3 separate regions of the Homo sapiens genome follow, and all the other regions are linked to region 3. Evidence: fine-mapped expression QTL. A gene starts in region 3. Each other region holds a variant in brackets. All regions are shown on one strand. Distances are from middle to middle.

What was found. PIP is the estimated chance that this variant, and not a neighbour inherited with it, causes the effect.
Region 1: its variant is the best candidate, but not a certain one, in a credible set for the expression of NAA25 in whole blood (TOPMed, PIP 0.59).
Region 2: its variant is the best candidate, but not a certain one, in a credible set for the expression of NAA25 in nucleus accumbens (GTEx, PIP 0.68).

The regions. Positions count from the first base shown.
Region 1 is chr12:112,032,076-112,034,837 of GRCh38, forward strand. NAA25 (N-alpha-acetyltransferase 25, NatB auxiliary subunit) reads right to left here. Exons shown (of 24, transcript NM_024953.4): 23 at 1,158-1,304. Among named protein-coding and RNA genes, the nearest start is that of MIR3657, 4.3 kb to the right of the region's middle. RefSeq lists an enhancer at 1,128-1,629. The variant G/T (reference allele first, on the strand shown) is at 1,211.
Region 2 is chr12:112,447,490-112,450,218 of GRCh38, forward strand. The region is part of intron 2 of PTPN11 (protein tyrosine phosphatase non-receptor type 11); the gene reads left to right. Among named protein-coding and RNA genes, the nearest start is that of PTPN11, 30 kb to the left of the region's middle. The variant C/T (reference allele first, on the strand shown) is at 1,642.
Region 3 is chr12:112,107,652-112,110,413 of GRCh38, forward strand. NAA25 (N-alpha-acetyltransferase 25, NatB auxiliary subunit) reads right to left here and starts at 1,132. Exons shown (of 24, transcript NM_024953.4): 1 at 1,065-1,132. The coding sequence starts at 1,122. RefSeq lists silencers at 902-981, 1,002-1,081.

The DNA.
Region 1 (2,762 bases), 76 kb before region 3:
GCCTCAGCCTCCCGAGTAGCTGGGACTAGAGGCGCCCACCACCACGCCCGGCTAATTTTTTTGTATTTTTTTAGTAGAGACAGCGTTTCACCGTGTTAGCCAGGATGGTCTCCATCTCCTGACTTCGTGATCTGCCTCCCTCCGCCTCCCAAAGTGCTGGGATTACAGGCGTGAGCCACTGTGCCCAGCCCATGTCTGCTTTTTTTAATCAATCTTTGGTAATGTGAACTGCTCTGAGCCCTTTCCCACAGTAAGCACTCTGTTCAAAGTCTAACGTTTTTAAGCTTTACAAAAGAGGGGCTTACAATCTCTTAAGGCTGGTGTGCTAAGGAAAATTCTATTCATTCCCTTCCCTATGAAGGTCTGGGGCTATGATGATGGCTGCCCTCAGGTTACTGGATAAATTCCCTCATCAGCAGTTTAGCTCAGCAGTTTAGCTCAGACAAACTCCCGGAGGGAAGCATTTTCTTAAGATCAGTTTCATCACTGGACCAACAGGCTAGAAACAGACGACTCCACCACTGTCCTTCTTGCCCCTACCAAAATCCTAAACCTACTCCAGGCCGGTGAATTAACATTTACAAAAAAGAATCGTCATTTTAAGGGCAAAGGCTTTATAAGGATTTTGCTAACTAATAGAATTTGAAAAGACCTAAAATAATATCAGAAGACATTTGATGGTGGTACCTTTGATTCCATACTTGGTTTCATTCCCTTTTTGGTTGGCTTGCTCTAGCCTAATTATTACTGACATAATTACTTCTCATGTCCAGCATTTCTCCTTTCTCAGGTGATAACTGGGTGGCAAGGAAGACAGCTAACTCAGCAGCAGGTAAATTCTATTCAAGAAGATTGTCCCTGGATTTCAAAATATGGCTGGTTCCATGTTGCTCAAAATGCTGGCATTAGTTTTCATAGTAAAAGAACAACCCCAAAAATGCATAGAAAGGAGGACGTATGGGGAGAAATGAAGAGGGGAAAAAACCTACCACCAACAACACAACAAGAAACTACTGCCAAGCACCTTCTAGTCACAAGTCTTATAAAGAGGAAATGATAAATTGAACTTTAACTTGTCCTTGTGATAAAGATGAGAGAGAGAGACAGAGTGTTTGTGTGTGTGTAGAAAACATTGCCGATTGCCTACAATCTCTTACCGGTGAGAGAGAAGTGTCTTCTAAAATAAGTTCTTCAAGTTTAAGTGCAATTA[G/T]ATGTGTTTCAAGCCCTTTAATATGATCCACAACATTGGAAATTAAAGTCTGAAGCCCAGTAACATAGTCTTGGAAACTGGTAAAGACAGGTGGCTGGGAAAAAGATTAAAAAAGAGTTGAAACATTATCAAACATATTACCCATATCTACATCACAAAAGCTACTGAAAGATGTGAGGGAATTTAAATAGTGGCATTTCAAACCAGTGGTTTCAAGTGAATGAATGGTACTAAAATAACCAGCTAGACATTTGGAGATACAAAATAACACAGTAATATTAAAATAAATTTCCGATAGATTAAATACTTAAATAAAAAAAAATCCATCAAAGCACTGGAAGAAAATTAGGTAACAACTTCTGCAATCATGACACTGACAGCTGAAAAACCCTTTCTAAACATCACACAAAGCTAAAAACCATTAAAAAGATTATCCTTGTTTTTAAAAATATTACTACATTGACAAAAAAAAAATCACTCAAGTTAAAAGACAAATAACAAACTGAAAAAAAAACTGCATCACCTATGACAGGGGATTAGTAACATTATTATGTTAAGAACCCAGTAGCTCAACACATATAAATAGGAAAAATATTACTACCACAATAAGAAACTTGGACAAAGAATAGAAGACATATCAAAGAAATCCAAGAAACATGTGATACAACTAAAAAACCTAGCCAATCAATTAATAAAGCTAGCTTTTCACTCAAGAAGTATTCTTGGACAGTTCAATATCAATAAAATTTTAAAAATCAGTATTAGAAAAAGGAGATACCAATATTCACCTACCAGATGGTTAAAGATACATACTCAACACTGTTGGGGATGAGTACAAATGTATATATGCATATACATTTATTAACTGTATAAATGTATATATACAGTTAATTTCAGATCTAAGAGCTATCCTAAAGAAACTATATTATAGGCCAGGTGTGGTGGCTCATGCCTGTAATGCCAGCACTTTGGGAGGCTGAGGCGGGTGGATCACTTGAGGTCAGGAGTTCAAGACCAGACTGGCCAACATGGTAAAACCCCATCTCTACTAAAAATATGGCCAGGCGCAGTGGCTCACGCCTGTAATCCCAGCACTTTGGGAGGCTGAGGCAGGCGGATCACTTGAGGTCAGGAGTTCAAGACCAGCCTGGCCAACATGGTGAAATCCCATCTCTACTAAAAATACAAAAATTAGCCGTGCATGGTGGCAGGCGCCTGTAATCCCAGCTACTCCGGAGGCTGAGGCAGGAGAATTGTTTGAACCTGGGAGGCGTAAGTTGCAGTGAGCCGAGACCGCGCCACTGGACTCCAGCCTGGGTAACAGAGCGAGACTCCGTCTCAAAAACAACAACAACAACAACAACAACAACAACAAAATTAGCTGGGCGTGGTGGCACACGCCTGTAGTCCCAGCTACTCGGAAGCCTGAGGGAGAAGAATCGCTTGAACTCAGGAGGCGGCGGCTGCAGTGAGCTGAGATCCGCCGCCACTGCACTCCAGCCTGGGCGACAGTGAGACTCTGTCTCAAAAAAAAAAAAAAAAAGAAAAGAAA
Region 2 (2,729 bases), 340 kb after region 3:
ATTGATAACGATCTATTTTTTTTTTTTGAGATGGAGTTTCAGTCTTATTGCCCAGGCTGAAGTGCAATGGCGTGATCTCAGCTCACTGCAACCTCAGCCTCCTGGGTTCAAGCTATTCTCCTGTCTCAGCCTCCGGAGTGGCTGGGATTACAGGTGCATGCCACCATGCCCAGCTAATTTTTGTATTTTTAGTAGAGATGGGGTTTCACCATGTCGACCAGGCTGGTCTCAAACTCCTGACCTCAGGTGATCTGCCTGCCTTGGCCTCCCAAAGTGCTGGAATTACAGGCATGAGCTACCATGCCTGGCCTTTTTTTTTTTTTTTTTTTGAGACAAAGTCTTGCTCTTTTTCCCAGGCTGGAGTGCAGTGGCCACAATCTTGGCTCACTGCAACCTCTGCCTCCTGAGTTCAAGCAGTTCTCCTGCCTCAGCCTCCTGAGTAGCTGGGATTACAGACATGTACCACCATGCCAAGTTAATTTTTGTATTTTTTGTAGAGACTAGGTTTTACCATGTTGGCCAGGCTGGTCCTGAACTCCTGACTTAAAGTGATCCATCTGCCTTGGCTTCCCAAAGTGCTGGGGTTACAGGCATGAGCTATCGCGCCTGGCCTGAGAAATCTCATTCTTACTCCTACTCCCTTGCACACTATCTCCATTCTGTAGGTAGCCATTTCTATTAATTTCTTGTTTACCCTTCTGTGTTTCTTTCATTCTTTTTCTTTTTTTCTTTTTTTTTTTTGAGACAATCTTGCTCTGTTGCCCAGACTGGAGTGCAGTGGTGTGATCTTGGCTCACCGCAACCTCCACCTCCTGGGTTCAAGTGATTTTCATGACTCAGCCACCTAAGTAGTTGGGATTACAGCGCCTGGTGTACACTACCACACCCAGCTAATTTGTGTATTTTTAGTAGAGATGGGGTTTCACCATGTTGTCCAGGCTAATCTCCAACTCTTGGCCTCAAGGGATCTGCCTGTCTCAGCCTCCCAAAGTGCTGGGATTATAGGCATGAGCCACCATGCCTGGCCCTATGTTTCTTTTTATAAAAATAAGCAAATTAATATTTTTATTACTATTTTCCTTTTATTTTTACACATCAAGTAGAACATTAAATATATTTCTCTGTAATTTTTTTCAGTTACCTAAATCTTTTAGTGATCTCTCTCATCTTTTTAATCAGCTGGATCGCATTCTATCATGTGAATATTTTATAACTTCTATATACTGTCACCAGCAGGTAGCGATTTAGTTGTGTCTAATATTTTAAAATGATATATAATGCCTCAATGAATATAGTAACCTTTTGCATATATTGTTTTGTGCTTTGGGATAACACTACCTCGTATTGGAAACTGTGTCATTACATGTGTCTTTAAAATTACATGTGTCTTTTTATTTTTATTTTTATTTTTTTTGAGTGGGAGTTTCACTCTTGTTGCCCAGGCTGGAGTGCAGTGGTGAGATCTCGGCCGACTGCAACTTCCGCCTCCCGGGTTCAAGCGATTCTCCTGCCTCAGCCTCCCCAGTAGGTGAGATTACAGGTGCCTGCCACCACGCCCAGCTAATTTTTGTATTTTTAGTAGGGACGGGGTTTCACCATGTTGGCCAGGCTGGTATCGGTCTGCTGACCTCAGGTGATCCT[C/T]CCACCTCAGCCTCCCAAAGTGCTGGGATTACAGACGTGAGCCACCATGCCTGGCCATCACTTTTTTTTTTTTCTTAATTGCTGCATAGTGGCCGGGCACAGTGGCTCACGCCTGTAATCCCAGCACTTTGGGAGGCCAAGGCAGGCGGCGGATCATGAGGTCAGGAGACCAATACCATCCTGGCTAACATGGTGAAACCCCGTCTCTACTAAAAATACAAAAAAATTTAGCTGGGCGTCGTGGCGGGCGCCTGTAGTCCCAGCTACTTGGGAGGTTGAGGCAGGAGAATGGTGTGAACCCGGGACGTGGAGCTTGCAGTGAGCCAAGATTGCACCACTGCACTCCAGCCTGGGTGATGGAGTGAGACTCTGTCTCAAAAACAAACAAACAAACAAAAAAATTGCTGCATAGTATTCCATTGTATGAGTAGTAACACAACAATTTTTATAATGCATAGTATTCCATTGTATGAATAGTAATGTAGCACTATTTGTTTATACATTTTTATGATTAAAAAACAAAATGTTTTTCTATTATGAATAAAGTGGCAATGAATATTTTTGTACAAGTGTTTTGGTAGCTATACAGTTATTGTCACTTAATATATGCAATTCGATAGGCCAGTCATTCAAAATAGAAGATATACAAGGTAGGCCGGGCGTGGTGGCTCACGCCTGTAATCTCAGCACTTTGGGAGGCCGAGGTGGGTGGATCACCTGTGGTTAGGAGTTTCAGACCAGCCTGACCAACATGGAGAAACCTCATCTCTACTAAAAATACAAAAGTAGCTGAGCGTGGTGGCGCATTCCTGTAATCCCAGCTTCTTGGGAGGCTGAGGTAGGAGAATCACTTGAACCTGGATTTATAATGTATGTAAATCCACCGCGAAGGTTGCGGTGAACCGAGATCACGTCATTGCACTCCAGCCTGGGCAATAAGAGCGAAACTCCATCTCAAAAAAAAAAAAAAAAGATATGCAAGGTAAAGATACTAATAAAGACCTTTGTGTTGAGTTGGTTGACATGTGGTTATTTCACCCATCGTATTTCTTATAGGGAATAGGTAAATTCGTTCCTTGGGTTTCTTT
Region 3 (2,762 bases):
CAAAACGATTCCCACCTTGGAGAGAAGCCTCCAATTTAGTAACATCCACATGAGGTCTATAAATACGATGTCTACTTTTGTAAAAACCACTGACCTTGAAGCTTCCTCACCATTAAGTGAGATAGACCAAGACCATAAAACCATCTAAGAGGAAAGGAAATGCAAAAAGGACCAATCCAATTACACATTTCGGTTATTGGAAAAGGGTTTCTCCCAAACTCAAAATCTGTGATTTTTCACTACCAGGGTAAATGGATGAGATGACATCAAGGTCTTCAAGTCTGCGGGTTGAGGTAAGAGTTGTGGAGAGGGATCTGCTTAGCACAGGGAAGGAAAGCTGCAGAGAAAACCACAGAGAAGCTGCAGAAAGGAGAAGCCCTCCAGTAGCTCTGCATGCCCCTCTGACACGAGCTATCACAATCTCTTCACCGCTATTTTAGGCCCAAGACCCCCTCCCCCCGCCTCCCACGTGTGACCAGAGTAGCTGCTTCTCCACCCAACAGCTCTGGATTGGGAGCCTGGAATCTCGGGCCTGCTCCTGACTCGATCTGGGTGACCTTGCGTCAGCCCCTTCCCCACTCCGGACCTCAGTTTCTCCTATGCACCGAAGCCCACCTAGTCAGACAACCCTCTAGGCCCAATTCCCGTAAATAAAAAAAAATCTCTGGTAGGGAATCTTCCCTCAGGCAGGGCGTCCCACCCTCGTGCCGGAGCCGGCTTCCACCTTCGGGGAGATCTCCGGTCTCCCTAGGAGCGGCGGTAACGATGCAGCCTGCGGGTAGCGCAGGTGTCTGCAGAACCACGCGTCCCACGGGGCCTGCCAAGCAGGCCAGCTCTGCCGACCAGCTGCTGCCCAGACCGCGCCACTACCACCCCAAGGCTGAGGAAGGTTGGGCCGGCGCCTACGCGAGGCCCGCGGCTGCGGCCTAGTGGCCCGCGCGGCCCGCCCCCCTGCGCCTGCCCGGCCCGCGCGCCGGCCCTCAGCACCCCTCCTGGGCTTTCGCCCCAGCCTCGGCAGCCCTCGGCGCGTCGGGCTGGCGAGCGGGCTGGTCCAAGACACTCACCGTAAATGGGCCGGAGGCGCCTGTCGTTAGGGTCCTGCACATGGCCCCGCGTCGCCATGATGACAAGCGCAGAACCACAGTGCGCACGCGCGGGGCAGGACCCCGGGAAAGGGCTATTAAAGGGCCAGCGTCGATCTCGCTTGTCTATCACGATAGTCGCGGTGCTGCGACTGAACGCGCCTGCGCGGAAAGGGAAGCATCCACCCTTGCCGATTGCCACCTCTTTAAACGCTGTTCCTTCACTTAGCAGGTGGGATCAAGCTGGCAAGAGGAGGCAGCTGTTGCTGTTAAAGTCTTCCGAGTCACTGACTGGGAAGTTAGGAGAGGAGGGGAGAAAGCTCTCAAAGTTAGGGTTCGGCTGCTCCTGTTTATCCTATTTATTCTCCGTCCTGAAGAACCAGCTAGACTTGGCTGTGATTAATCGCAGAGGAACCAGAAACTCCCGGGGGAGAGAGACCCAGGGGAAAGTTGGGGAAGCGGGGCTGATCAACAGCAAAAATCTGCCAAAAAAGTTCGAGAGAGCCGGGCGCTGTGGCTCAGCCTGTAATCCCAGCACTTTGGGAGGCCGAGGCGGGCGGATCACAAGGTCAGGAGATCGAGACCATCCTGGCTAACACGGTGAAACCCCATCTCTACTAAAAATACAAAAAAAGTTAGCGGGGCGTAGTGGCGGGCGCCTGTAGTCCCAGCTACTCATGAGGCTGAGGCAGGAGAATGGCGTGAACCCAGGAGGCGGAGCTTGCAGTAAGCCGAGATCGCGCCACTGCACCCCAGCCTGGGCGACAGAGCGAGACTCCATCTCAAAAAAAAAAAAAAAAAAAGAAAAAAGTTCGAGAGCCCTCCACCACCTGTTCCTGGACCAAACTGAGCGTCAGGCTGCTGTTTCTCCTGGTTCAGTAAGGAGATGCAGATGAACTGGAGAGGAAGCGAGTTTTTATTTCTGCAACCAGTTACAGGGAGAAGGCCTGGAAATTATCACCAGACCAACTTAAAATTACAAAGCTTTCCAGAGCTTATATACCTTCTAAGCTATATGTCTACGTGTAAATGTGCATTCATCTAAAGACATAAGTGATTAACTCGCCGGGCGCGGTGGCTCATGCCTGTAATCCCAGCACTTTGGGAGGCCAAGGCGGGCGGATCACGAGGTCAGGAGATCGAGACCACGGTGAAACCCCATCTCTACTAAAAATACAAAAAATTAGCTGGGCGCAGTGACAGGCGCCTGTAGTCCCAGCTACTAGGGAGGCTGAGGCAGGAGAATGGCGTGAACCCGGAAGGCGGAGCTTGCAGTGAGCCGAGATCCCGGCACTGCACTCCAGCCTGGGCGAGGGAGGCTCCGTCTCAAAAAAAAAAAAATAATAATAATAATAATTGATTAACTCACTTTAGTCTATAACTAAGGTTTGAGTCCTGAAGACTTTCCTTTGAAGCCTCAGTAAATTTACTTAATCTAAATGGCAATAGGTGCTGGGGTGATTATCCTTATCTTGCCTCCTACTAAATCACGGAGGTTTGGGGAGTTACTTCAGACCCCCAATAAAATTTGTTTAATCCTAAATGGGTCCTGTTAGGAATTCTTTCGTTATTTTGTCATGCTTTAAGGCCAAGGAAAGGCCTAGGCAAAACTCTTGGTGGGCTTTTGTTACATTCCATCCTTTGTATAAGGGCACTGGCTTTTTTTTTTTAGCTTTTAAT